Linked DNA regions of Homo sapiens. The protein of the gene in region 2 interacts with the protein of the main gene of each other region in a biochemical or structural test. Each region holds a gene or a part of one and is shown on either strand. Other genes may lie near its edges.

The links.
Region 1: the proteins of MAP1LC3A (region 2) and NBR1 form a complex in vitro, tested with the Homo sapiens proteins (2 studies listed by BioGRID and IntAct).
Region 3: the proteins of MAP1LC3A (region 2) and ATG7 form a complex in vitro, tested with the Homo sapiens proteins (2 studies listed by BioGRID, with this or other methods).
Region 4: the proteins of MAP1LC3A (region 2) and MAVS form a complex in vitro, tested with the Homo sapiens proteins (2 studies listed by BioGRID and IntAct, with this or other methods).

The regions. Positions count from the first base shown.
Region 1 is NC_000017.11:43,188,201-43,195,224, reverse strand, and holds part of NBR1 (next to BRCA1 gene 1 protein), read right to left. Parts: intron 6,184-7,024; coding exon 6,106-6,183; intron 5,638-6,105; coding exon 5,423-5,637; intron 4,617-5,422; coding exon 4,449-4,616; intron 3,854-4,448; coding exon 3,644-3,853; intron 2,132-3,643; coding exon 1,972-2,131; intron 1,878-1,971; coding exon 1,587-1,877; intron 876-1,586; coding exon 726-875; intron 262-725; coding exon 186-261; intron 1-185. UniProt on the Homo sapiens protein: Ubiquitin-binding autophagy adapter that participates in different processes including host defense or intracellular homeostasis.
Region 2 is NC_000020.11:34,554,455-34,560,864, reverse strand, and holds MAP1LC3A (microtubule-associated protein 1 light chain 3 alpha), read right to left. Parts: upstream 2,148-6,410; 5' UTR 2,128-2,147; coding exon of another isoform or gene 1,997-2,127; coding exon 1,957-1,996; intron 1,658-1,956; coding exon 1,602-1,657; intron 1,519-1,601; coding exon 1,412-1,518; intron 1,130-1,411; coding exon 967-1,129; 3' UTR 520-966; downstream 1-519. UniProt on the Homo sapiens protein: Ubiquitin-like modifier involved in formation of autophagosomal vacuoles (autophagosomes). While LC3s are involved in elongation of the phagophore membrane, the GABARAP/GATE-16 subfamily is essential for a later stage in autophagosome maturation.
Region 3 is NC_000003.12:11,310,380-11,317,403, reverse strand, and holds part of ATG7 (ubiquitin-like modifier-activating enzyme ATG7), read right to left. Parts: intron 4,101-7,024; coding exon 3,984-4,100; intron 2,061-3,983; coding exon 1,911-2,060; intron 1-1,910. UniProt on the Homo sapiens protein: E1-like activating enzyme involved in the 2 ubiquitin-like systems required for cytoplasm to vacuole transport (Cvt) and autophagy.
Region 4 is NC_000020.11:3,841,949-3,849,840, reverse strand, and holds the start of MAVS (mitochondrial antiviral-signaling protein), read right to left. Parts: upstream 3,008-7,892; 5' UTR 2,938-3,007; intron 1-2,937.

The DNA.
Region 1 (7,024 bases), on a different chromosome or scaffold from region 2:
AGCATGTTGTTACTTTTGACAAAGGACAGGAAAGAAGAAAAACGGATCCATGATTGCTGCTTTACTATCCTACTGTGGGAGAAATCCTTGCCATTTCCTCAGAATAAAACACTACCAGTGTCTAGGCTGTGGTACTTTTGTGCCTATTAGTAAGACGAACAAGATGAAATGAGTGACATTCTTACCCACAGGGGTGTTGTGGGGCACTCTCTCCAACTCTTGAACAATGTTTATATCCAACAGCTCAAAGGACAGCAGGTCCTATAAAAAAAGACAATGTTAGGCTGTTTGGAGTGCATGCTGGAGCCATGTCTTGATGGGACCTGTAGACCATTTCCACATCATTTCGTATTCAACTCTGTTCAAATTCATGCCTGTCCCCAGACAAGTGAAAACAAGAAGAGTTAAATGGGAATTAGATGTTGAAATAACCCAATAGCAGGAAAGAGAAAATGCAGCAGGTATGAAGGAGAATTAGCTAGGCCAAGGTGAAGAGGCAACTAAAGGGAGTTTGTGGGGAAGTACAGGATTGAGTTCCCAATTCAAAGAGGAAACATCTAGTTTACAAACTTGCTTCCATGGGTGATCTCCTTCCCATTAAATATACCTGACTAGATCAAAGTGGGCATATCTCTGATTTCCTGATTACTGCCTATGGCTCTACCACCTTCTCTCCTGTGCTCTCTCCCTCTGTCCCTTGCCCTTCAAAGTGCTGAATCTTCCACCTGGGCAGTCAGAAGATCCACAGATGGGATGTAGAGCTCCCTCTCACTGGCAACATTTTTTGCCTTCTGTGGGATGCAGGCTGCTGTCCCTTCTGTCTGCTCAGTCACTTCACCAAGCTGTCTTTCTTCTTTAGCCAGAAGAAAAGTTTCCTATAGAGACAAACCATTGAGACAAATTTTAGGCCTTCAACAGAACTGAAGAGGCAGGCTGACAATGCCCCCAAAAATAAAAACGCTGCTGTACCTCCATATTTTAAAAAACAATGTTTTTGATATATTTTTACAGTTATAGAAAAAGTTGTAAAAACAGCAGAGAGAATTCACATTCCCCAGCTTCCCCTAATGACGATAACTTATATTAACTATAATAGTCAAAACCAGAAAATTAACATTGGATAACTTTAAGCAGTAAACACTCTGCCCCACTAATACAGAGAAATTGCATTAAAAAACTGTTCACTAAGTAGCAACCAGGGCAAGACTTCATTAGTATTTAGGGAACATACACAGGGTATTTCAGGAGAGATGGATGTTAAGGAGTAAAGCTATCAGTTCAGCAGTTCCACAGGCCAGCCCAGGCCAGGAGTCCCTTTTTCCCTTGTGCAGCCAACAGGCTGACCATGCAACATCACAAAGAGGTACAAAAGTATTCAGTATGCAGCAAGACCCTAAAGACGCTAAAACAAACACCCTAAGGAAGAGGCCAAATATCAGCATAGAGATGTGTTGGGGCGGGGGGAGATGCTAACCTTTCAAGGTTTCTGGAAAACAACCAGCTATGAGTGGGTTCTTTTAGTTTTAGCCATCTCCTCTCTAACTAAGATTTGGATACTAGGCCAAAGCCTGTCAGTCAATGCTCACCTCTTGCTGGCAGGTGAGATCATCAGTTTTGCTTGAGCTGATCATGCCCTTTTCAATGTTATCAGGGCTCTCTTCGGAGGGGAAAGGATCTACTATGATACTGCACCAGACCCGAGGCCCAAATTGCTGGCCTTTGTGAGAAAGACGCCAATGGGAAGTATACGTTCCCTCCAAGGCTGGGGCAATGAACTCCACAGATACAACTCCCACATGGCCGGCCTTGAGGCAGGGAACCAAAACATCCTTCTTTTCTGTGGAAGCCAAAGTCAGGTTTCCCCACATGAACTTGAGCTGAAAAGAACAGTAAGAAGAGAAAGCAAGCTTGTCAGCTGAGCACTCTGCCACTTCAAATCACCTCATCTTTGCATTTTGTGGGAAAAATTACCTTTGTGTCTGCACTCCACTTTACATTTCCTGTATTTTTCATCCTCCAGTGTTTGATAAACTTGGTTCCTGGCTGAAGGTGAGTCCCATCAGGCAAATTCTCATCCACAAATGCTGCACTGAGCATTGGCATAACGGAGGTACAGGGCTGCAAAGGGAGCCTGAACAGAAATTCAGATGCTTAGTCACTTGCTGTTGGGTGTGAAGGCTTCTGAATACCTCACACTAGCTTGAGAGTCTGACTGTGACTCTTGAAAATGTGCTAACCCATTTGCCTTAAAAATAATACTGATATTACTAGTATAGGACCACATATTAGAAACAATAAATTTTCTGACAAACTTAAAACAATAAAACAAAACAGAGGATAGGTCTCACTCCTGAGCTAAAAAAGTCATGGTAAGAGTAATTAAAAGGGCCTATAAATACAACACCTAGAGAGTCAGGCTTTTAACACATTTGTTCCTTTTGCTTCAATTCCAGATTGCCTCCAATGAAGAGAGGGACCCCGCCATTTTGAACTTTAGTGGTTTCTATCTTTCTGAAGAAGGAAACAAAACAAGTGTCAAAAATAACTACGAAACTTGGCCAGGCGCGGTGGCTCACGCCTGTCATCCCAGCACTTTGGGAGGCCAAGGCAGATAGATCACGAGGTCAGGAGATCGAGACCATCCTGGCTAACACGGTGAAACCCTGTTTCTACTAAAAAATACAAAAAATTAGCTGGGTGTGGTGGCGGGCACCTGTAGTCCCAGTTACTCGGGAGGCTGAGGCAGGAGAATGGCGTGAACCCAGGAGGTGGAGCTTGCAGTGAGCCGAGATCGCGCCACTGCACTCCAGCCTGGGCAACAGGCGAGACTCCAAGACTCCGTCTCAAAAACAAAACAAACAAAAAACTACCAAACCACCCTTTAATAATACTAAGACCACGCCAGGCAGGCGCAGTGGCTCACACCTGTTATCTCACCATTTTGGGAGGCCAAGGCGGGCGGATTCATGAGGTCAGGAGTTCGAGACCAGCCTGACCAACAGGATGAAACCCCATCTCTACTGAAAAAATACAAAAATTAGCCGGGCATGGTGGCATGCACCTGTAATCCTAGCTACTCAGGAGGCTGAGGCAGGAGAATCACTTGAACCCGGGAGGCAGAGGTTGCAGTGAGCCTAGATCATGCCACTGCACTCCAGCCTGGGCGACAGAGCGAGACTCCATCTCAAAAAAAAAAAAAAAAAAGCCGGGTGCTGTGTGGCTCATGCCTGTAATCCCAACACTTTGGGAGTCCAAGGCGGGCGGATCACGAGGTCAAGAGATCGAGACCATCCTGGCTAACACGGTGAAACCCCATCTCTACTAAAAATACAAAAAATTAGCCAGGCGTGGTGGCGGGTGCTTGTAGTCCCAGCTACTCAGGAGGCTGAGGCAGGAGAATGGCGTGAACCCGAAAGCAGAGCTGGCAGTGAGCCGAGATCGCACCACTGCACTACCGCCTGGGTGACAGAGCAAGACTCTGTCTCAAAAAACAAACAAACAAAAAATACTAAGACCAGATAATGGAAAGTTTTAAAGATTTAGGTGTTAAGGGCTACCAATAAATAAGACGGAAATTGGTTGAAGTTCCAGTTTCAGAGAGCTGGGCCTAAAGTTTTGGCTCCCACCCCAGTCCTGGGCTTACATCAGGGTATTAGACTGGAGCAAGCTCTCAGGTCGGCCTAAAGGAGACTTGGGGCTCTGGAGTCCATGGATTGAATTCCACAGGTGAATTTTCCTATGGAGTTTAAGCTGCTTTTTAAGTTCCTTGACCTCTGCTTTACGTTGTTTCTTCTCAGCTCGCAACCTTTGCTTTTCTGCTTTAAGAAAGTTCTTATCAACCTGTTTCTGGAGCCTGTGAGATAATAAAAGCAAGTCTTAAAAGAAAGTCACAAATAAATTCTGAAGCTATGTGGAGCCAATTGCAATTTCCATCAGTGTCAGCTTCCAGTTTAATTTCTTTTTTTGTTTTAGAATTAGGGTCTCACTCTGTCATGTAGGCTGGAGTACAGTGGTCTAATCATGGCTCCCTTCCACCTCATATTCCTGGGCTCAAGCAATCTGCTCACCTCAGACTCCCAAGTAGCTGAAACTATAGGTACGCACCACCACGCCTGGCTAATTTTTAAATTTTTTTTGTAGAGGCGGGATCTTGCTATGTTGCCCAGGCTGGTCTCAAATATTTGGCTTCAAGCACTCCTCCCACCTTAGCCCCTCAAGTTGCTGAGATAACAGTTATGGGCCATTGTGCCCAGCCTACTTTAGTTTCTTAATTTCTTTTTATAGCTATTATTTCTATTTCACTAACTTTGGATAACTGTCTTCATTATTGCACATCAATTGAAAATGAGCAGAACTAAGGAGACTATCTGTAGTTTTGTGATTCATACCCTGTCACCAGAACCAAGAAGTCAATCAGAGAATAAGCATCTCCATGTAGAGGGTTTTACCTGACTTGTTCCAGAGCAGCAGGAAGACGAGGAGTAGAGTACTTTGAGTGACAGAACGGTTCAGAGGAGCCCACAACAGGTCTCCGCAACTTCAGCAGGACGTGGTTAGTGTCATGGCCATATGGCCCTGCTTCACAATCTTCACAGATATTGTAGGATGGGCATAGGCTGTGGGGAAAGAATGGCACAATACACAATGGCAGAATAGGAAGTACCTGGGGTAGGGAGATATAAGACCATACTTCTATGTTTGCTCCAGTACCAACTAGCAGGTAACCTGAGCATGCCATCTGACTATGCCATGCCTCAATTTTCCTCATTAATAAAATGAGGATAATAACACTTAACCCATATCCATTTTAAATGAAAATCTATGGGAGGAAGGTAAGATGTGAAAGTACATGGGGCCAGGCACAGTGGCTCATGTCTGTAATCCCAGCACTTTGGGAGGCCATGGAGAAGAGGATCATTTGAGTCCAGTAGTTTGAGACTAGCCTGGGCAATATAGGGAGACCCCATCTCCAAAAAAATAATTAAAAGGCAGTCTGTGATCCCAGCTACTTGGCAGGCTGAAGTGGGAGGATTGTCTGAGCCTGGGAGGGTGAGGCTGCAGTGAACCATGATTGCACCCTGCACTCCAGCCTGGGTGACAGAGACCCTGTCACCAAAAAAAAAAAAAAAAAGGCATTTGGAACAACCGAGGAACTACCCTTAGTGATCTAATTTTGTCCGTTCAGGGGAACATAATTTTGCCTGGCTTTGCTAATCCAAATGCACATTTGAACACAACAATCTGAATAGTTACAACATACAAAGCATGTGGGTGAAGAGTAGCTTGTGCTTCCAACTCACAGCTACAACATCTAATGCTCAGAAACAGGGTACAATTAATTTCCCTTTACCTACACAGAAAGCCAGGGAGGTAAAAGCTGTAAGGTCTATCACTAGCTAGCTACTCCCAAGCAACTGCTTACCTACACTGGTAGCGGACACCAACAATCCTTCTTTGGCAGTTGTTGCAAGCAATATGCCAGCTGAACTGGTTTTCTGGCAAAAACAATGTTTCTTCTGAAGTAGGCATTGAGACTTCTGAGGGACAAGAACCCAAGGATGGGTTCTGGAGGACAAGCTTTTCATGTAATTTCTGTTCAAGCTTCTCAACCGTTTCGTTAACCACTTGTTCTCTGAACTAGAATATGGAGCAGAAGGTAGGGAAAAAACTCAGTTCCAATATCAGAAAAAAATGTGAAGATATCAATAGATCTGAAACCTAACTGTCTCTGGTATAATACAAAAACACAATAAACAACTGCTACTGAATAGACAGAAACATAGCAAAAGGTCTATTCCTTCCACAGCTAAACTGGTTCGAAGAAAATATCAAAACATCCTTTTGATAAGTAAATTTCTAACTTTTTCTCAAGCAGAGAGTTGTCCCTCTCCCTTACATGCTTAGAATTAGACTCCCTCTTTTTCTGACACTTCACTGCAAAGGTTAGAGCTTTCTCGACTGGAACTGTTCTAAGTTTGGAAATTATAAGCTACCACTCTTCACCGGTACTAGAGGCAGCAGCCACCTGGGTTCAGTTTTCTATTTCTTCCACATTCCACCTGTGCCAACACCGCAGTTAAAACCCAAGCGAGACAGAACACTCACCGTCTCCAGGTAGCTTGTGAACCAGTCTGGGGGCTTGTCTTGAGGCTGGTCTGTGTCACATGGAACAAGTGGAAACGACTGGGAGAAAACACAAGCCGAGATGTTAGAGGTTACTTTTTCTATTTAAAATACTTTTCCTGGAGTGTATTATTTTGAGGTTTCTTTTGTGAAATCATACAAGTATATAATTTTTTAAAAAGTCACAGTATGAAGGCGTACTAAAGGAAAACAAAGTCTCTAGCCTGCTCCCCTTCTACAGAAGTAAACTATTACCAGTTTCAAAAGTCAGAGAGAGGAGCACACTAATTCCCAAATCTCTGATAAATGTGCAAATCTTACAACAAAGACAATGAGAAATAAATCTAGAAATTGGATAGACTGAAACAGGCAATGGGGAAAGGATTCCCTATTTAATAAACGGTGCTGGGAAAACTGGCTAGCCATATGTAGAAAACTGAAACTGGACCCCTTCCTTACACCTTATACAAAAATTAACTCAAGGTGGATTAAAGACTTAAACATAAGATCTAAAACCATAAAAACCCTAGAAGAAAACCTAGGCAATACCATTTAGGACATAGGCAGGGGCAAAGACTTCATGACTAAAACACCAAAAGCAGTGGCAACAAAAGCCAAAATTGACAATGGGATCTAATTAAACTAAAGAGCTTCTGCACAGCAAAAGAAACTATCATCAGAGTGAACGGGCAACCTACACAATGAGAGAAAACTTTTGCAATCCATCCATCTGACAAAGGGCTAATATCCAGAATCTATAAGGAACTTAAACAAATTTACAAGAAAAAAACAACCCCATCAAAAAGTGGGTAAAGGATATGAACAGACAATTCTCAAAAGAAGACATTTATTCGGCCAACAAACCTATGAAAAAAAGCTCATCATCACTGGTCATTAGAGA
Region 2 (6,410 bases):
CCTGGCTGGCACAGGGCTGCATGGACCTCAGGGGGCTGTGGGGCCAGAAGCTGGGCCAAGCCCTCCAGCCAGAGTTGCCAGCAGGCGAGTGCTTGGGCAGAAGAGGTTCGAGTCCAGGGTCACAAGTCTCTGGTACCAAAAGGGACCCATGGCTGACTGACAGCAAGGCCTATGGGGAAGAACTGGGAGCTCCCCAACTTGGACCCCCACCTTGTGGCTCTGCACACCAAGGAGCCCCCTCCCAGACAGGAAGGAGAAGAGGCAGGTGAGCAGGGCTTGTTAGATTGTGGCTACTTAATAAATGTTTTTTGTTATGAAGTCTACCCTGAGACCACATCTGCATTGCACTCCTAGAGGGGGTGGCCCCTAATAATGTTCTGGAACACTACACACAGGTGTGGGTTTCCAGAGCGAGCACCGCGGCCACAGAACACAAGTCTGTGCGCCAGAGCCCGGGGATGGTGCGGGCAGCCCCACCAGCACCCTCCCCACTCCCAAGCAAGCGGCTGGAGGCACAGGGCCAGGCAGGCCTGAGCAATCTTTATTCTGCAGAGGGACAATGACCACAGATCCATACACCACGTGGAGACCGAGGGGCGGGGAGCCAGGGGCCAGTCTTTCAGGGGTGGGCAGGTCCAGGCGGTGGGCAGAGCCTCGGGTGGGTGAGGGGCAGATGGGCAGACAGGCAGGGGCCTAAAAAAAAGATGAACCACACAGCAGGGGTGCTGGGAGCTGCTCCCCACCCTCCCCCATCCCACCAGCCAGCACCCAGAGGGACAACCCTAACACGACCGGCCCAGGATCCACCCAGGGGCAGAGTAGGTGGGTTGGTGCCCTCTGACTAGGGGGGCACATGCCTGCCCAGCCCACCACGGTAGAGGCAGCTCAGTTCAGGAACCAGGAGCTCTCTGGGCAGGGCCTGACCGGGGCCGCCCGACTCCCAGGCCGAGCCCCCCTACTGCTGGCTCAGAAGCCGAAGGTTTCCTGGGAGGCGTAGACCATATAGAGGAAGCCGTCCTCGTCTTTCTCCTGCTCGTAGATGTCCGCGATGGGCGTGGACACACTCACCATGCTGTGCTGGTTCACCAGCAGGAAGAAGGCCTGCGTGGGGTTCAGCTGCAGGCGGCGCCTGCAGCCGGCGGGAGAGTATGCAGCTGTGAGGGGCTTGGCTGCGGGACGGACATAGCCCTGACCCCCAGAATGATTCCCAGCCTTTCACACCCATTCTCACCCCAGCTGTCACCTCTGACCCAACACCGACTGCAGCCCCGACCTTGACCTTTCCAGCCACCCCAGAACAGGGGCCCACCGCCCGGTCCCATCACCCCTGACCCCACTCCCACCCCTTCTCGGCGGGAACCCGGCTCCCCTCCCGACCCTAGCCACCTCCTGGCGGCGGCTGCCCACGCACCGGATGATCTTGACCAACTCGCTCATGTTGACATGGTCCGGGACCAAAAACTTGGTCTTGTCCAGGACGGGCAGCTGCTTCTCACCCTTGTAGCGCTCGATGATCACCTGGGAGCAGGGCGGGCGGGCAGGGGGTCGTGTCGGGAACGCGCGAGGCGGGGGCGGGGCAGGGCTGGGGGTGCGGGACTCACCGGGATTTTGCTGGGGTGCTGGTCGCGGATCTGCTGTACCTCCTTACAGCGGTCGGCTGCGGACAGCGGCCAGACCGTGAGGCCGGGTCGGGCCGGCCCAGGTCCGCCCCGCCTGTCCCGGAGGGGCGGCCCCCGGCCACGCCCCAGCTCCAGCCCCCACCCCCGGGGCCATCAGGCCCCACAGCCCCTGGCACCTATCGCGGTGGGGAAGCGGGCAGCCCCCGCCCAGGCCGGAGCTGGTCCCAGCCCGAGGGTCCAGCCAGAGCCTGACGTCACGGGGCTGACGTCACCTGCGGCAGTCGGGGTCGGCCGGCACCCCTGCCCCAGAGCTCGCAGCTCGCCTGCCGGGCCTCACCGAAGCTCCGCCGCTGCTTGAAAGGCCGGTCTGAGGGCATCGCGCGGGCCCGGCTGGGCGCGCAGGCCGGGGCTCTGGGGCGCGGGGATGTGTCTGCGGTTTGGGGGCTCCGGGGGCTCCGCGCCTCGCGCTCAAGGGCTCCGGGGCTCGCGCTGAGCACGGCGGCTGCGGCTGCGGGAGGTAACTCGCCCGGTGACGTCAGGTCACAACATTCCTTAAAGGGGAGGCCAGTGCGCCGCTCCCATTGGGCCGACGCACAACCCGCCCGCCCGGACCCGTGACGTCACGGCGCAGAGAGCCTGGGTCCGCGGACCGGGACGCGAGGGGCGGGGCTTCTGGGCGCGTCACAGTCCCGTGACGTCATGGGCAGCGCGGGAGCTTCTCCCGCAGCCCGAACTCAAGGTAAGGCCCGGAGGGCGGTGGGGCCGCCCTAGGCCGATGGAGCGGGCGGGCCAGGCTGCAGCCCCACGGCACCACTTCCCGCCCTCACCGAGTCTGTGTCAGGACTGACGCGGTTCTGGGCGCCGTGGGAAACAGCCGGAGCCAAAGGCCCGGCGCCTTCACGGGGCTTAGGGCGAGAGAAGGGAGAAGGTGCGGGAGGCACAGTCAGACACAGGATAGAACAGGATGCTAGAAATGAACGCCCAGGTTTGAAAAAGAATAATATAATTGAAAAGTAGAGCCATCGAAATTCAGGTCTCAGAGGATGAGGTGAGAAGGCAGAAAAGGACAACAGAAGAGAAATCGTGGACCTGGAGGCTGATCGGAAGCAGCTCACCAGAGAGACAGGTGATGGGGAATAAGGAAAAGGGCACAGATGGCAACGCCAGGAGAACTCGCGGGCCCGAGCAGAGCTCCAGAGGCGAACACTGAAAGACCTGCAGAGACAGTTCCTGAAAAAGAGCTGCCAGAAATGATGCTTAAAATCCAGAGCAGAATGCGCAGACTGAAGATCAACATTTTTTTGGGGGAGGGGGGAGGGGGACGAAGTCTCGTTCTGTCGCCAGGCTGGGGTGCAGTGGTGCGATCTCAGCTCACTGCAACCTCTGCCTCCCGGGTTCAAGCGATTCTCCTGCCTCAGTCAGCCTCCTCAGTAGCTGGGATTACAGGCGCCTGCCACCACCCCCAGCTAATTATTGTATTTTTAGTAGAGATGGAGTTTCACCATGTTGGCCAGGATGGTCTCGATCTCCTGACCTCGTGATCCACTCGCCTCGGCCTCCCAAAGTGCTGGGATTACAGGTGTGAGCCACCACGCCTGGCCGCCGAAATAATTTTTAAAGAATGTAGTTTAGTAACAAGGACATGGAACCCAAAAGGAAGAAATTAGATGGAAAAATGGTGAGCAAATTGGTAAACATGTGAATCTAAACAAGCATTTAATATGCAATATGAATAATAATGATTAATTTGTGGGCCACAGAAACAAGATGCATGAGACACAAGAACATGGAAGACTGAGAGGGCAATTTGAGAGGGGGTTAAAGAGACTGAGCATTGTCTGGCTTTGTAAAGTCAGGTGTGTATTTCAGATATTTAAGAGGATCACCAAAAGAATACAAACGGAACTATAACTGCCAATGCAGAGAAAAGGGTAGTGATGGGTATTAAAACTATAATGGAAGGCAGAAAGGGAGAAAAAGGAAGCAAAGTAAAAGGGATGGTAAATATATAGTACAAAACCAGAGGTAGAAAATGTGGTTTACATTCACCTCTTAAAACACAGATGACCAGATTGGCCAAGAAAAAATAAGATGCAGCTCTATGCTATTTACAAGAGGAAATTTAAAACCTAAGGGCACCAAAAAGTAAAACGATGGGAAAAGGTGTACTAGAGAAAAACTAACCAAAAGATGTACCTATAGAAAACTCAGACAAAATAGGCCTTCAGGCAGAAGACACTGGGGATAAGAGGATCAACATGAAATGATGCGAGGAGGAACTCTGTGAAGAGAGGAAAGTTCTGAACTTCTATGTTCCAGGGTTTTTGTTTTTAAGGCTGAAAATAGGCCAGGCGCAGTGGCTCATGCCAGTAATCCCAGCACTTTGGGAGGCCGAGGTGGGTGGATCACTAGAGGCTGGGAATTCAAGACCAGCCTGGCCAACATGGCAAAACTCTGTCTCTACTAAAAATACAAAGATTAGCTAGCTGGGCGTGGTGGTGCACGCCTGTCATCCCAACTACTCAGGTGGCTGAGGCACAAGAATTGCTTGAACCTGCTAGGCGGAGGTTGCAGTGAGCTGAGATTGCGCCACTGCCCTCCAGCCTGGGCAACAGAGTGAGACTCTGTCTCGAAAAAAAAAAAAAAGAGGCTGAAAATATATTAAGAACACAAGGAGAAATTGCCAGGTCCTCCATCATAGGGAGACATAAGACCTCTTTGAGTAACTAATAAACCAAACAACCAAAAAAAAAAGGACATAGAGGATGTTAATACAGTTACTAATCAAGATCAATGAACCCCAATAGAAAACCTGACAGTTAGTTTTTTAACTTTTAAAATTTAAATTTCAGACCTGTGTGAGACCAACACATTATTTTCAATCACACAAGGAACATTTACAAAAATGACCCAACTACTAGGGTGCACGACAAATCTCAACAGATATCAAATCAGTTTCAACCATATTCTTTGGCCACAGACAAAAGCCGCGTAAGCTCCAGCTGTGTGGAAATTTAAACCTATTCTAAATATGAAGTCATATATAAATAAAAATTATTTAGTTCAAACAAAAAATGAGGATACATATGCTAAGAAAACTTGGTGGCCGGGCGCAGTGGCTCACGCCTGTAATCCCAGCACTTTGGGAGGCCAAGGCAGGCGGATCACGAGGTCAGGAGATCGAGACCATCCTGGCTAACATGGTGAAACCCCGTCTCTACTAAAAATACAAAAAATTAGCTGGGCGTGGTGGCGGGCGCCTGTAGTTCCAGCTACTCGGGAGGCTGAGGCAGGAGAATGGCTCGAACCTGGGAGGCGGAGCTTGCAGTAAATGGAGATCGCGCCACTGCACTCCAGCCTGGGCGACAGAGCGAGACTCCATCAAAAAAAAAAAAAAAAGAAAGAAAACTTGGGAGGGGGGCCATGGCAGGCCAGGTGTGGTGGTTCATACCTGTAATCCCAGCACTTTGGGGGGCCCAGACTGGAGAATTGCTTGAGCCCAAGAGTTCAAGGCTGCAGTGAGCTGTGATTGCAGCTCTGCATTCCAGCCTCGGTGACAAAATAAGATCCATTTCTTTAAAAAAAAAAAAAATCAGATTTATAGCCTTATTACATAGATGTATTACTTAGATAATAAATACAGAAAATCCATGAGCAGAGTTTCAAAGAAATTTAAGAAGGAGTAATAGTGTAATCCTAGCACTTTGGGAGGCCCAGGTTGGAAAATCATTTGAGCCCAGAAGTTTGAGACCAGCCTGGGCCACATAGTGAGACCCCGTCTCTACAAAAATGAGAAAATTAGGCCAGGCACAGTGGCTCACGCCTGTAATCCCAACACTTTGGGAGGCTGAGGTGGGCAGATCACTTGAGGCCAGGAGTTCGAGACCAGCCTGGCCAACATGGCAAAACCCTGTCTCTACTAAAAATACAGAAGTTAGCTGGGTGTGGTGGTGCATTCTGTAATCTCAGCTACTTGGGAGGCTGAGGCACAAGAATTGCTTGAATCCGGGAGGCAGAGGTTTCAGTGAGCCAAGATCATGCCACTGCACTCCAGCCTGCGTGACAAGAGTGAGACTCTGTCTCAAAAAAAAAAAAAAATAAGAAAATTCGCTGGCTTTGGTGGCACACACCTATAGTCCCAACTACTCAGGAAGGATCGTTTGAGTGACAGAGGCCCTTTCTCAGAAAAACAACAAAAAATGCTGAAAACAAACAAAAAACAACAACAACAAAAAATAGGCCAGGTGTGGTGGCCCACACCTGTAATCACAGCACTTGGGGAGGCCAAGGCAGGCAGATCACTTGAGTCCAGGAGTTGTAGACCAGCCTGGGCAATATGGTGAAACCCCATCTCTACAAAAAAAAAAAATACAAAAAATACAAAATACAAAAATTACAAAATACAAAAAAATTAGCTGGGTATGGTGGCACGTGTCTGTAGTCCAGCTACGTGGGAGGCTGAGGCATGAGAATTGCTTGAACCAGGGAGGTGGAGGTTGTAGTGAGCCAAGATTGTGTCACTACACTCCAGCCTGGCGACAGAGCGAGAGACCCCATCTCAAAAAACAAAAACAGGCCGGGCGCGGTGTCTCATGCCTGTAATCCCAGCACTTTGGGCGGCCAAGGCAGGCGGATCATGAGGTTAAGAGATTGAGACCATCCTGGCCAACATGGTGAAACCCCGTCTCTACTAAAAATACAAAAATTAGCTGGGCGTGGTGGTGCATGCCTGTAGTCCCAGCTACTTGGGAGGCTGAGGCAGGAGAATCACTTGAACCTGGGAGGCGGAGG
Region 3 (7,024 bases), on a different chromosome or scaffold from region 2:
TTCAAACTGTTATTATTTTGGCAGAGCTGCACTTTGGGGAGGACCACTTATTTACCACATACAACCTGACCTACGGTCGCTTCCAAACACAGGCCATTTAATCCTGCCTGCTATGACAAGAGGACTTCACACTAGATTGGACTTTAAATTATTAACGGTCTTATTGCTATACTAATTTAGCTGTGGTTCTGTGAAATCACCTGGGGGAAAGAATTTTAATAAAAATTCAATCTTCAGTCCTCAATTTAAAAAGGGCTTCCTCTGGGCCAGGAGTGGTGGCTCACGCCTGTAATCTCAGCACTTTGGGAGGCCGAGGTGGGCGGATCACAAGGCCAGGAGATCAAGACCATCCTGGCTAACACGGTGAAACCCCATCTCTAATAAAAATACAACAAAAAAGGGGAGGTGGGCTTCCTCTGAAAAATAAAATGTAAATGTAGTTGATTTTAAAATGTGCTTTTAAAAAAAAAAGTCATCCTAAGTTCAGGCTAAAGAATAACCAGACCGTCAGTTAAAGGCTTTCCTTTTTTCAGCTCTGATATATTCACATGGCTATGGAGATGATTCCATTTGATTTCAGAACTTCATAACACTCATAATCTTTGATATTTTTAATTCATAGTCTCCTGTATGGCTAAGACAACTTCCTATATATCTGATCACTTCTAAAAGACATTTACGGTACTCTTTCATTCACTCAAAAGAATTTTATTGAGGGCCTCAGACAAGTACTAGACACTATGCAGACACAAATTCATAAGACTTGGGCCCTGCCCTCTTGGAGCTTACAGTCTAATATGGCACAAAAAGAAACTTGTACAAGGTACTGGACCTGCAAATGAGGATCAGGGAATAAATGCAGTGACTTCAGATAGGGATAGATCATATATGGCCACACCATGATAATGCTTCACAGTGGAGATAGAATTTCAATAAGACAGAGAGAATTTCTTAGGGTTTTCACAAGTAGAACATGTTTTAGGAAGATGATACAACACGAGGAAAAACAAAGATACAAAAAAAGTTTTAGATGTATCTGACGGGAAGGGGATGGAGATTCTGGAGAAAAATAGATAAGATTAGCTGGAGCAATGCTTTATGAGGAAAATAATGGAAGATAAGGCAGGAAAGGCAGCTTGGAGCCAGAAGGAAGACACCATTATGCTCTTGGTCAATGAATGATACACTAAATGTGGGTAGTTCAAGGGAGATTCTTCTACAGTAGTGTTGCACAACATGGAAACAAGATTCTAAGTGTCCAGGAGTGTGATATGAGGGGCCTGAACTACAGGGTAGTTCTGGGAATAAAAATTAAAACATAGAGGGTAAAATACATCAGGAGGGAAAACGGAAATAACTTTAGCACTAATAGAGAGTAAGGTATTGGCTGGGCACAGTGGCTCACACCTATAATCCCAGCAGTTTGGGAGGCCGAAGCAGGTCACGCATTCAAGACCAACCTGGCCAACATAGTGAAACCTCGTCTCTGTCTCTACTAAAAATACAAAAAATTAGCCAGGCATGGTGGCGGGCACCTATAGTCCCAGCTACTCGGGAGGCTGACCAGGAGAATCGCTTGAACCAGGAAGGCAGAGGTTGCAGTAAGCCAAGATTGCGCCACTGCGCTCCAGCCCAGGCAACAGTGCGAGACTCCATCTCAAACAAACAAACAAAAAAAAAGAGTAAGGTATCAAAATTATTCTGAGCTGTAGTAGAGCTAGAAAAACCTAGAGGAGCTGATTCGATAACTGTAGGGGTGGGAGAGGATAGAGATAAGGAAATGTTCTTAAACATCCTTTGAAGGCTAAGGAAATCTAAACAAGTTTGAATTTTGCAGTGGTCTCTTGTAACATGAACTTCAGATTTTTTAAAAAACTATATAATAAAATGATACTCAAAGTTTATCTGACCTTCGTCCTTTGACCTTGGAAGAAATCACTGTAGTGTTTAAGCAAGGAAACCAGCACCATGTTCTCATCATACTTGATTAAGAAGTAAGGAAGAGCTGTGACTCCTTCTGTTTGACAAAGATTATCATATGCACACTCTAGTGCTTCAATCTGAAAACAGAAAACACGTTGTTATTCTCTAGAAAATTACATTTCTAGTTCTGGGCTAAAAACTAACTCAAAAAAAAGGTACCTTAAAACCAGAAGACTAGAAATGACTGATCACACTCCTCTTACTCTATTACAGCAAGTGAACATAGAAGTGCCTCCAAATAATACCACTTAGCTTTTATATAACACTTTCCAGGGGCATGGTGGTGTGTGTCTTAGGGGCACAAAGGGACTACAACATGGTAGTTCCCTAAGCTGTCAATCAGAGTTTTAGAGCGGTAACGAAACATTCTTTCTCTCCTATGATAACCCAACATGAATCTACCCCTGATGAATTTTACCCCGAACCTTTCCATAATCTTCAACAGCTTTACTGAGACATGACTAACATACCATACAACTCACCCATTTACTACTTTTTGAGACAGGGTCTTGCTCTGTCACCCAGGCAATCACAGCTCACTGCAGCCTCGACCTCCTGGGCTCAATCAATCCTCCTACCTCAGCCTCCTGAGTAGCTGGGACCACAGGCACACACCACCATGGCTCAGCTAACTTTTTTGGTATTTTTTATAGCGATGGGGTTTCACGATATTGCCCAGGCTGGTCTTGAACTCCTGAGCTCAAGTGGTATGCTCACCTCTGCGTTCCAAAGTGCTGGAATTACACTATAGTTGTGAGCCACCGTGCCTGGCCCAATTCACCCATTTAAAGTACATAATGCAATGTGCTGTTTGTTTTTTTAGTATGTTCACAGGGTTATGCAAGCACCACAGCAATAATTACAGAACATTTTTGTCCTCAATAAAAGAAACCCCATACCTGCCAGCAGTCAATACTCAGCCAAAATCCTTTTTCCTTACTTATATTTCCTCTTGGGAAATTAGTTCCACAAAACCACAACCTCGGATTTGTACGAACAACAACAAAAAAAATTTAATCAATAATGGCTGCTCCCTGAACAGCTCCAAGAGAGCTCCCTGAATGATGGCATCAGTATTCAGGGCTTTAGTGATTGATGTGTTTCAAGAATTCAAATCATCTTGACACATAATCTTTGCCTTAACAACAATAAGAATTCTCTAGTTTAGGGTCTCTGTTATACCAGCCTGATTATTTTAACTGCTCTTCTGGGAACCATCTCTAATGAACTTATTATCTATCCCAAATGTCACCGACTAACTCTGCATGTACTGCTCCAGGTAGAAAAGTTCTGCAACTTGGTACAAGGGTAGGAGAATGCCTTCTGTTTTGTTTCAAAGACTCTTTCCCAGACTATACTGCCTTATGTTTCCCCACATTGAAAATGAAGACCACATTTTGGTAAATTCTTTCAGTGTTTCAAAATATTCCTATAATTCCCCCTTACTGGCTTAGCATTTCACCAAATACCACTGAAAACCTGGAAAATTACTGTGCACTACATCTTCAAAATGACTTTACAGACCAGGCAGGGTGGCTCATGCCTGTAATCCCAGCACTTTGGGAGGCTGAGGTGGACAGATTGCTTGAGCCCAGGTGTTGAAGACCAGCCTGGCCAACATGGCAAAACCCCATATCTATTAAAAGACAAACATTAGCCAGGTGTGATGGGATGCCTGTAGTCCCAGGTGCTCAGGAGGCTGAGATGAGAGGATCACCTGAGCCTGAGAAGTTGAAGCTACAGTGAGCAGTGATCGTGCCACTGCACTCCAGCCTGCGTAATGGGGGTGAGACCCAGTCTCAAAACATATATAAATATATATACAAAAAAATGACTTTACAAACATTTTCTAAATAAGTCTGCTCCTAGTACCACCTTTGGAGGATTTCAGTTACCACGTCTTCATCCAGAGAAGTGCCTGTTTGTCTTTGGAAAGAACTACATAACTACTCTTGCACATTCAACCCAATTTTATGTGCATTTTGGTTATTTGTTGATACCTGTTTTAGTGAAAACCTTTGATCCAAACCCACTGGCCCCTGAATGAGAGGTAAACTCTCTGGAAGACAGAGGGCAGGATAGCAAAACCAATAGTAGAAGTGGTACTTCTTTAGATCCTAGAAAAAAAAGTATAAATAAGTTATTAGAATAGCACCATTAACTTAAGGTGAAATGCATCTATTAATGTAGCTTCTCAAGGCCAATTAAGATAGCAAAGCTATGCAAACAAAGTCTGTCCAGCTTATCAAATATCCTCATCCCCAACAGAACTCATGATCAAATAAAGGACTTTTGTATTCCCAAAATAGTCTCATATACCACCACTAATAATATGATGACAAACATAATATACTTTATTGACCACTTGCTAACAGAAAATGTGCAATATGTAATTGATATTATCATCATCATCCTTTAACCTACAAAACCCCCCTGGGAGGTATTTACTATTATCCCATTTTATAAACAGAAAACTGAATCTTACAAAGGGGTAAAAAACCTAAACAACAACAAAAAAGATGGCAAGGGGCAGAGAAGAGATCAGAACTCTGCTTCCAAAACTTAAGCTTTTTTCCACTGACCATAGATACTTAATGTACTATCTACAGAAGCACAACTTCCAAACAGTTACCATTCTCTTCACAATCAAATAAATTACATGTTATTAAGGAAGCTGTGCTATTCACATATGTATGCATGCCTGAAATAATACAATATTGCTTTTGTAAATGGCTTAGTGGATTTAAGTCAACAACTATCAAGCCCTTGCTATGTACAAGGCAAAACATAAGACACTGACAATAAGATGAATAAACCCCAGTCCCAGACACCAGGCAGCTCACTTTGTGGACAGAGCAGAGATAAAGCGAGTGCATGATTAGAGCCATGGAGAGGCTCTAAGTAGTAAGCTGGATGGGTGAATAGAAGAGGTTACATCTTCACGGGTATATCTGACCGATCCCCCACCAGGGTAGGAGATCCAGGGGAAAGGATTTGTGAGGCTGTCTTTGACACTGTTCCCACTCACGCTAATGGCTCTTGCTTCAGAATTCTTACAGCTTTTGGGGCCTTAATTAAATTCATGGTAGCATTCCAGACATATGTGGGTATTTGGCAGCTTGCCTACAAGCCTGTGACCACTGAATATGAATGCAGTTTATGTAGCTAATTAATATTTCTTCTTGAATCTTGCTAAGAATTAAAATTGGATGGTTGTTAGATGACTTTTTATTGAGATATAATTTACGTTCCATAAAATTCACCATGTTAAAAAGTATACAATTTAGTGGTTTCTTTTTAGTATAGTGATATGGTTGTACCATCATCACTATTAATTCCAGAATATTTTCATCACTCCAAAAAGAAATCTCATACATATTAGCAGAGACTCCCCATTCCCCCTCTTCTCATCCCCTGGCAACCACTAATCTATTTTCTGTCTCTGTGGATTTTCCTAGTCTGGACTTTTCATATAAATGAAATCATACTAGATGAGTTTTAAAATGTAAATGTATATGTAATCATGTGTACAGATGAGAAAGTCTAATAATTGTAATCTCTGCGGTCTCTAATTCTGCTATTCATTGATCAACTAAGAAAAAATTCCCTCTTCACAATGGCAAAATGAACTGCAAAGCTGAAATTAATGAACTGTCTAGTCCTATGAGTCCTAAAAAACAGCAGAAGGAAAGCAAAAACACCTCCAGAGATTATTTTCTCTTCTTTGTACTTAAATGATTTGTCATAACCGATATTTAGTAAAAGGTTAAACAATTCAAGATGAAGAAACTCACAAAATCTTTTTTTTTTTTTTTTTGGAGACAGTCTTGCTCTGTCACACAGGCTGGAGTGCAACGGCACGACGATCTCAGCTCACTGCAACCTCCACCTCCCAGGTTCAAGCAATTCTTCTGCCTCAGCCTCCCGAGTAGTTGGGACTACAGGCTGCCATGCACAGCTAATTTTTTTTTTTAATTTTAGTAGATACGGGGTTTAACTATGTTGCCCAAGCTGGTCTCAAACTCCTGAGCTCAGGCAATCCGCCTACCTCGGCCTCCCAAATCGCTAGAATTACAGGCATGAACCACTGCACCCGGCCGGACCTCACGAATTCTAAGAAACTTTATCAGGTCATTTTCAAAAGTCAAAAAGCTTGCATTTCTTAGGATTCTTTTCAGGATAGAAATGACCTCCATTAAATTAAACATAAAGTCCTTGGTGTCTGAAGATTTTAAAAAGTAGATACTTACAATTTTTTTTAAGTCAGGCTAAGAATGCTCAGTAAACAAGGCAGCAAGACCAACACACATACTGACTCTAGGCAAACCTTAAAACTTTAAGTAAGAGCTAATGTTATTTTTCTCATTAAATGCAAACTGTCAGCATGTTCTACTATGAGAATTCTTGGTACAGAAAGCGTACTGACGTTCAAGTAACTAGAAATCTTTAACTAGCAATGCTTACAATTTATCCCAGTAAAGAGCCTACAGGCTGCATGCGGTGGCTCATGCCTGTAATCCCAGCACTTTGGGAGGCCGAGGCGGGCGGATCACGAGGTCAGGAGATCAAGACCATCCTGGCTAACACGGTGAAACCCCCTCTCTACTAAAAATACAAAAAATTAGCCGGGTGTGGTGGTGGGTGCCTGTAGTCCCGGCTACTCAGGAGGCTGAGGCAGGAGAATGGCATGAACCTGGGAGGCAGAGCTTGCAGTGAGCCGACATCGCACCATTGCACTCCAGCCTGGGTGACAGAGCGAGACTCCGTCTCAAAAAAAAAAAAAAAACTACAGAATTACCCAAACGTATAGACAGATTATTAATGCCAAACTGAGCCAAGTAATCAGACAAAAAATTTAAACATTTTTCTCTCTCCTCCACTATTACATAGAAAGCATTATAACTTGTTAGAAAATGTGTTCCTTGTAGATAGCCACCCACTGGCCTTGTTTGATTGCTATCATACCCTCCTTTGCCTTGGGCAATAAATCAGAGGCCTCCCCTGCATCTAGGAATCTAGGAGGAACGGTGGGAGGTCGGGG
Region 4 (7,892 bases), about 31 Mb from region 2:
CCACATCCAATTTATATTCTAATGGGGTGGGACAAATAACAGATCAGTAAATTAATACCCAAATAAGAGTTCCAGATAGCAATAAAGGCTCTAAAGAAAGTAAAGCAGGTAATGAGACAGAGCCCCTGGAGACAGGCATGCTACTTGAACTAGGGGGTCAAAGAAGCCTTTCTGAACTAGCGTGCAGAACACAGCTGAGCTGTTCTCAGGCTCTGAGAAGATTGGTGTTTTAGGCAGAGAGCATGGTAAATGCAAAAGTCCTAAAACAAGAATGAGCTTGGCATGTTTGAAGAATAGAAAGCAGGTCAGTGTGGTCTAGGTCAAGAAAGCTAGGGATGGCTGGCTGCGTGACTCACGCCTATAATCCCAGCACTTTGGGAGGCCTAGGCGGGTGGATCACCTGAGCTCAGGAGGTTGAGACCAGCCTCGCCAACATGGTGAAACCCTTTCTCTACTAAAAATACAAAAATTAGCATGGTGGTGGGCGCCTGTAATCCCAGCTACTCGGGAGGCTGAGGCAGGAGAATCGCTTGAACCCAGGAGGCAGAGGTTGCAGTGAGCTGAAATCATCCCATTGCACTCCAGCCTGGGTGACAAGATCAAAACTCCATCATAGGAAAAAAAAAAAAAAAAGCAAGCAAGCTAGGGAAAGGGGCAGAGATTGTCAAGGTCAAGGAGGTGGCAGGGGCCACTCATGTAGAGTGCTGTAGGAAAGGACTCTGGGTTTTAGTTGGAGTGAAACAGGGAACCACTGGAAGGTTCCGGCAGGGAAAGAAGAGGATCTGATTTACATTAAAGACTTCTCTGGTGGTTGTGAGGACTTTGGAGGGGCCAGGATGAAAACTGGGAGACCAGTAAGGAGGCCACAGCCCAGGAGACAGGATGACTATGGTCAGGATGGGAACCACAGAGATGGCAGGAGGCAGCCAGATTCCTGGTGTTTTGAGGGTGTAGGAGATAAGGGAGAGAAAAGAAGCATGACTCCTTGGGCACTGGGTGGATGGAAGGTGCCCTTTTACCAGGCCAGAGAAGCCAGGGGAGGAGCAGTGGCTCAGAAGGGACTCCAGAACTCAGTTCGGAACAAGTGAAGTTTGAGATGCTATTGGATTCCAAGTGGGTTGTCAGGGAGGGAAGGAGGCAGGAGAGGACCAAGTGGGCATCAGGCAGGCATGAGACCTCTCTCAGGAGGCAGTGCTGTAGAGCAGACAGCACCTAAAAGCTGTTGGGCCACCAGACCTTCCTCACAGGGGAAGCAGTCCTGTCACTGGCCTCAGAGCCTCACATGCATGAGTTGCTTTGCCAGCCAGCAGGCCCTGCTACATTCCTCGTGGGGCAAGTACTAATGACAGGTCAGGAGAATCAGGAAGGTGAGGCGGGGGTCCTCTGAGCCTTCAAGAAATTAGCAAAGAACAACTCTATGGGAGTTAATAGATCCCTTTCTCGGCCGGGCGCGGTGGCTCACGCCTGGAATCCCAGCACTTTGGGAGGCCGAGGCAGGCAGATCACTTGAGGTCAGGAGTTTGAGACCAGCCTGGCCAACATGGTGAAACCCCGTCTCTACTAAAAATGCAAAAATTAGCCAGGCATGGTGGCACACACCTGTAGTCCCAGCTACTCAGGAGGCTGAGGCAGGAGAATCTCTAGACCCAGGAGGCAGAGGTTGCAGTGAGCCAAGATTGGACCACTGCGCTCCAGCCTGGGCAAGAGAGTGAGACTCCATTTCAAAAAAAAAAAGACCCCTTTCTCCTTCCTTTCTCATGGCATCAGCCAGGTACCAGAAGGCAGTCAGATGAGGCACTCTTCTGCATTCCAGCTTCAGCCACAGATGGAGGGGAAGGGATGATGTGGCCCAAACAAAAGGAAAGGAAGCCCACATTTGTTCACATTTATGGAGGGCCCATTGTAGACAGGCACATCCTAAGGTTCTTTCAGTTAATCCTTCCCCAATCCCGTGACAGGGAAAGTGTTGCCAAGGTGCACAGCTGGCCAGAGGCTAGCACAGGATTTGAACCCAAAACCTGCTGCCTCACTGCAACTGGTCATACACCTTGCAGGGCACAGAGACCCCTGCAGCGAGACCCACACAGCCACCTGCCTTCAAGCCCAAAGAGGACCCAAGGTCACTTGGCGGGAGGGAGGCTGAGGGTGCACTTAGGTGGAAGCAACATTTAGTCCAGACATTAACCCTGCTTTCACATGGCTGCCACAGGTCCCAGGTCGCTGGCTGTCCTCCTAGATATTTTTGAGGCTTCACGGCTTCCATACAGAGAATCCCTTTTTCGTGTTTTTGGTTTGTTTCATGTTTTCTTGGCACTTCCTTCCCAACTGAGAAGGAAGTAGGTGACAGAGTGTTCCCAATACAGCAAAGTTTCCGACCTGACTGTCCAGAGGCTCTGAGTGCATCCCGGAAATAAACACCCACCCTTCCCAAAGGGACAGGCCTCACAGCCTTGGATCGGATTCCTGGGCGCGACCCAGGTCCGCGGAGGGCGGGGAGGCCGTTTTGAGCTGGTGTCGCCGCCGAGAACTGTCCAGACCCAGCGGAGGGCGGCAGCACTCGACCTCTAGGCGCACCCGGTCGAGGCTCGGCCCCACCTTAGCGTCACCCTGGGCCCGCGGGCGGCAGGAGGAGGTCAGCGGCCGCTGCCCGTCCCCTTCTGGCCCTACCTTTCCCCCAGCCTGAGCAGACGCCCAGCGCCACCTACCCCCTTTTCCCCGGATGCTGGATGCGGCGCCTGGAGCCCTCAGTGTTCCCGAAACTCTTGCGACAGGGCCCGCTCTTCCGGATCCCCGCGCGTCCTGTCCCCTCCTGGGCCCCCCGCGCACCCCAGACCCAGGGCGTCCCGGCGGACTCCGTCCTGCCGCTGCAGCCACCTTCCCTAAAGGCGTCCGTGCGTGCTGAGCCGAAAGGACCCAACGCCCGGGAAGCGATCTTACCTCGGGTACCCCCGGCCCTGAGACCTGGCGACCGCCGCCCGGGGCCCAGGACCCTTCCCGCAGCGAGGAGGCGGGGCGGGCAGAGCGCGCGGCCATTGGCCATGTGGAGGGGCGGGGCTACTCGGCCGCGCGTGGTTGGCTGGCGACGCAGGCGGCTGCGCAGCGGGGACGGTCACTGGGCCTTGGTTTGCGGGTCGGGAAGCGCTAGACTGGGCTCGGAGAACCGACCTGATTTTTTGCTGGGGGCGCGCAGTCTCGAGCAACTTCCAGGGGAAGTCCGGTGTCCGGCCAGAAACCAGGCAGGTGGCCGGCCTCGGAGTCATCGGGGGGCTGAGAATTCCATCCCCACGCTTCCCAAGTGAAGCAGCCCCTCCTCCCCCTGGGAACTTTGAGGGGTGAGGGTCTTCGTGTCGTTCTCTCCGGCACCCCCATGGCCTGGCATACAGTTAGTGCCCAATAAACGTTGGGTGCCGCTGAAGTCACAGGGGCAAGGATGCCTATCCTGGAGACGTGCACGCTGGGCCTGTGGGAGTGGGAGCGGGCGGGGGACTGCTGGGTAGGTAGGCGCAAGGCAGGGACGCCAAGGTTGGCTGGCGGGCAGGCTGGGTATGGGTTGGGTGCTGCGTGGGAGAGGCCTCTTACGCCCAAGGGCCTGGGACAGGTACCTCCCGCAGTTCCTGCCATCTGCCTCGCCCTTCCCCTTCTGGGGCAGAGGCCAGCACTTACTGAGCACCTACGATCTTCCAGGCACAGGGTCTTCTATTCTTTTTTTTTTTTTTTTTTTTTGAGACAGAGTCATGCTCTGTCGCCCAGGCTGGAGTACAATGGCGCGATCTCGGCTCACTGCAACCTCCACCTCCTGGGTTCAAGCAATTCTCCTGCCTCAGCCTCCCAAGTAGCTGAGATTACAGGCACATGCCACTGCGCCCGGCTAATTTTTGTATTTTTAGTAGAGACGGAGTTTCACCATGTTGGCCAGGCTGGTCTCAAACTCCTGACCTCAGGTGATCCTCCCACCTCGGCCTCCCAAAGTGCTGGGATTACAGGCGTGAGCCACTACGCCCAGCCTCAAGTGAGGTTTTATTACTGTACTTTATATCCCTGTGAATATTTCACAACCTTCAGCATTTACAAAGTATGCTTAATCACACCTGAACTGTAATAAAACCAGCTCTGCCTAGTTTAGCCAAGAGGGCATAAATGTTGATTAGTTCAAGAATCAATCCTGCCTGCTCCCCACCGGAGCAGCTCTAGCAGCTTCATATCTAATTCTTTCAGGAAGAACATTGAAAGTGTAGGAGCGGGCTTCCAAGTGCAGCTATCACTCCTGTCTTTGCTGGACCTCAAAGAGCATTCAAACAATCCCACTGCCTGACTAGGTGGTTCCCTGCCACCTATCAACAGCTTTTATAAAGATTTAGACAAAGAAGAACACAACAACATGCTTATGGTATTCCTATCAAAAGCTCATGATCTGAAACTAATCATAGGGAAACAGTAAGCAAACCCAAAACGAGAGACATTTGACAGCTGTCCTATCCAATACAATGGCTACTAGCCACATGTAGCTATTTTAATTAAAATTAAATAATACTTAGAAGCCAGTTCCTGAGACCCACGAGCCACATTTCTCTTTTTTTTTTTTTTTTTTTTTTTTGAAACAGAATCTCACTCTTTCACCCAGGCTGGAGTGCAGTGGCCCAATCTCGGCTCACTGCAACCTCCGCCTCCCGGGTTCAAGTGATTCTCCTGCCTCAGCCTCACGAGTAGCTGGGACTACAGGCGCATGTCACCACGCCCGGCCAATTTTTGTATTTTTAGTAGAGACGAGGTTTCACCATATGGGCCAGGCAGGTCTCAAACTCCTGACCTCAAGTGATCCACCCACCTTGGCCTCCCAAAGTGCTGGGATTACAGGCGTGAGCCACTGCACCTGGCCCATGAGCCACATTTCAAATGCTATTTTCATGTAGCTAATGGCTTCATACTCGGTGACACAGAGCATTTCTATTTTTTTTGTTTGTTTTGTTTTGAGACAGAGTTTCACTCTTGTTGTTGAGGTTGGAGTACAATGGCGTGATCTCGGCTCACCACAACCTCTGCCTCCCAGGTTCAAGCGATTCTCCTGCCTCAGCCTCCCGAGTAGCTGGGATTATAGGCATGCACCACCATGCCCAGCTAATTTTGCATTTTTAGTAGACACGGGGTTTCTCCACCTTGGCCAGGTTGGTCTCAAACTCCCGACCTCAGGTGATCTGCCTGCCTCAGCCTCCCAAAGTTCTGGGATTACAGGTGTGAGCCACAGCGTCAGGCCCAAACAGAGCATTTCTATCATCACTGAAAGTTCTATTGGATAGCACTGCTCTGCAGAATAACTCTTCAAAAATTTCAAGGTCAGGAAAAACAAGGAGACTGAGAGACTGCTCCAGAGAAAAGGACACCAAAGTGACATGACAACTGAATGCAATATGGGAACCTGGGTTGGATCCTGAAACAGAAAAAGGACTTCAGGTGAAATCCAAATAAGGCTTTTGGATCAGTTAACAATAATCTAGCTGGGCATGGTGGCTCACGCCTCTAATTCCAGCACTTTGGGACGCCGAGGTGGGTGGATCACCTGAGGTCAGGAGTTTGAAACCAGCCTGGACAACATGGTGAAACCCTGTCTCTACTAAAAATACAAAAATCAGCCAGGCATGGTGGTGGGCACCTGCAATCCCAGCTACTCAGGAGGCTGAGGTAGGAGAATCGCTTGAACCCGGGAGGCAGAGGCGGCAGTGAGCCGAGATCGCACCATTGCACTCCAGCTTGGGCAACAACAGTGAAACTCTGTCTCAAATTAACAACAACAACAACAATCTGTCAGTGTTAGGATCATTGTACTGGGTTATGTAAGATGTAAACATTTGCATTATTTTTGCAACTATGTTGTAAATCTGAAATTATTTCAAAAATATAAAGTAAAATAAATCATCTTTTGACCCTATCTGGCTATTTATATTATCTTTTATTTCTTATTGCATCCCACCCTATTTCATGGGTGTAATTCATTGATCACTGTCCATTTATTAGGAGAAGAGCAAGTCCAGAGAGTGATCTATGCTCTAGGCTGCCCCCAGTGAGGGCCTTGGAGCTGCCCCCTGCCCAGTAAAGTTCAGCACAGACAGGCCCATCTCCAGGCCTCCGAGGGAGGCTGTGACCCACCCATGATGACTCAGCACCCACCAGCTCACGTCACCCCCTGGAGAGCAGAGGTCAGGCGCAAAGACAGTGCCAGAGGGCTCCAAACTCGGTTATGTTCTCCGGTCTGAGCCCTTGAGGGAACTATGACTAAAAAACATAATCCCCTCCTTTATGACTTCATTTTGAATAGTATTTTAAACAGTTATTCTTTATGTTTTATTTATTTATTTTTAAAATAAAACAGACACAGTCTTGCTACATTGCTCTGGTTGGTCTTGAACTCCTGGGCTCAAGCAATCCTTCCATCTAAGCCTCCGAAGTAGCTAGGACCACAGGCACACTCCACTGCACTTAAACAGATATTCTTTATACTATTTTAATTTTTTCATTCTTTCAACTTAATTTACCAAAAATATATACTGTTTACAGCTAATGTGGGGAAAACAGAAATATTTGATGATGAAAACCAAAATCCATATTCATAATGCCACCATCTACAAAAATTAGCCAGTCATGGTGGCACACATCTGTAATCCCAGCTACTCAGGAGACTAAGGCAGGAGAATTGCCTGAACCCAGGAAACGGAGGTTACAGTGAGCCAAGATCATGCCACTGCACTCCAGCCTGGGCGACAGAGTGACTCCATCTCAAAAAAAATACTACTAATAATAATAATGCCACCATCCAGGGGTGACTGCTGGTGACGCTCCAGTGTCTTTTCTAGTATTTTTTTTTTTTCCTACAATACAGAGTCTCCAAGTCCTCTGACTTCCTGGGGTTATCCTTGCCTTGACCAGCCATGTAAGATGGTTCTGGTTCTAGCCATGATGTGGGACGTAATAGGGTCTGGCATGAGCCTGCCTTACCTCTCAGGGGTCTCAGGAGGAGGGGGCTTGGCTCACTTCAGCTCCTGGGTCAGTCGCTGCTACAGCCAGCTCCTCCTCTGGGACTGTGGTTGGCATAGCCCTTTCATCAGGCCTCAGGACACTGTGTGGCTCGTCACCTGCCGCTGACACAATACAGTGTGCTTAATCACATCTGAACTGTAATAAAACCAACTCTGCCTAGTTTAGCCAAGAGGGCATAAATGTTGATTAGTTCAAGAATCAATCCAGCCCTGCCTGGGCTCTTGCGGCTTCATATCTAATTGTTTCAGGAAGAACAATTGAAAGTGTGGGAGCCATAAGATTAGGCACACTTAATTGTATTGCTGCTTGGCAAGGACATGCCTTGAGAGTTAGATATCAGAGTTCCTAAAATTCACAGGCCTCCCCCAACACAGGGGACTTCTCCCTGGTCACGTCCCTCCACGCTCCCAGCTTCTGGTGCCCTGCTTGCTCTCAGCCCCTCTTGCTGTCTCTTGTCCTAGGGCTCCTCTCCCAAAATCAGATATTCAGTGCAGGAAACAGATGTCACCCTAGGTGTTTTGTGCATGGAAGGGTTTTGTTTCTTGAAGCACAGTTTACATTCAGTGAAATATATCAAACTTAAGTGTATGACTTGACTCTTTTTTTTTTTTTTTTTTTTGAGACGGAGTCTCACTCTGTCACCAGGCTGGAGTACAGTGGCATGATCTTGGCTCACTGCAACCTCCAACTCCCTGGTTCAAGCGATTCTCCTGCCCCAGCCTCCTGAGTAGCTGGGATTACAGGCATGCTCCACCACACCCAGCTAATTTTTGTATTTTTAGTAGAGACGGGGTTTCACCATGTTGGCCAGGATGGTCTCGATCTCCTGACCTTGTGATCCACCTGCCTTGGCCTCACAAAGT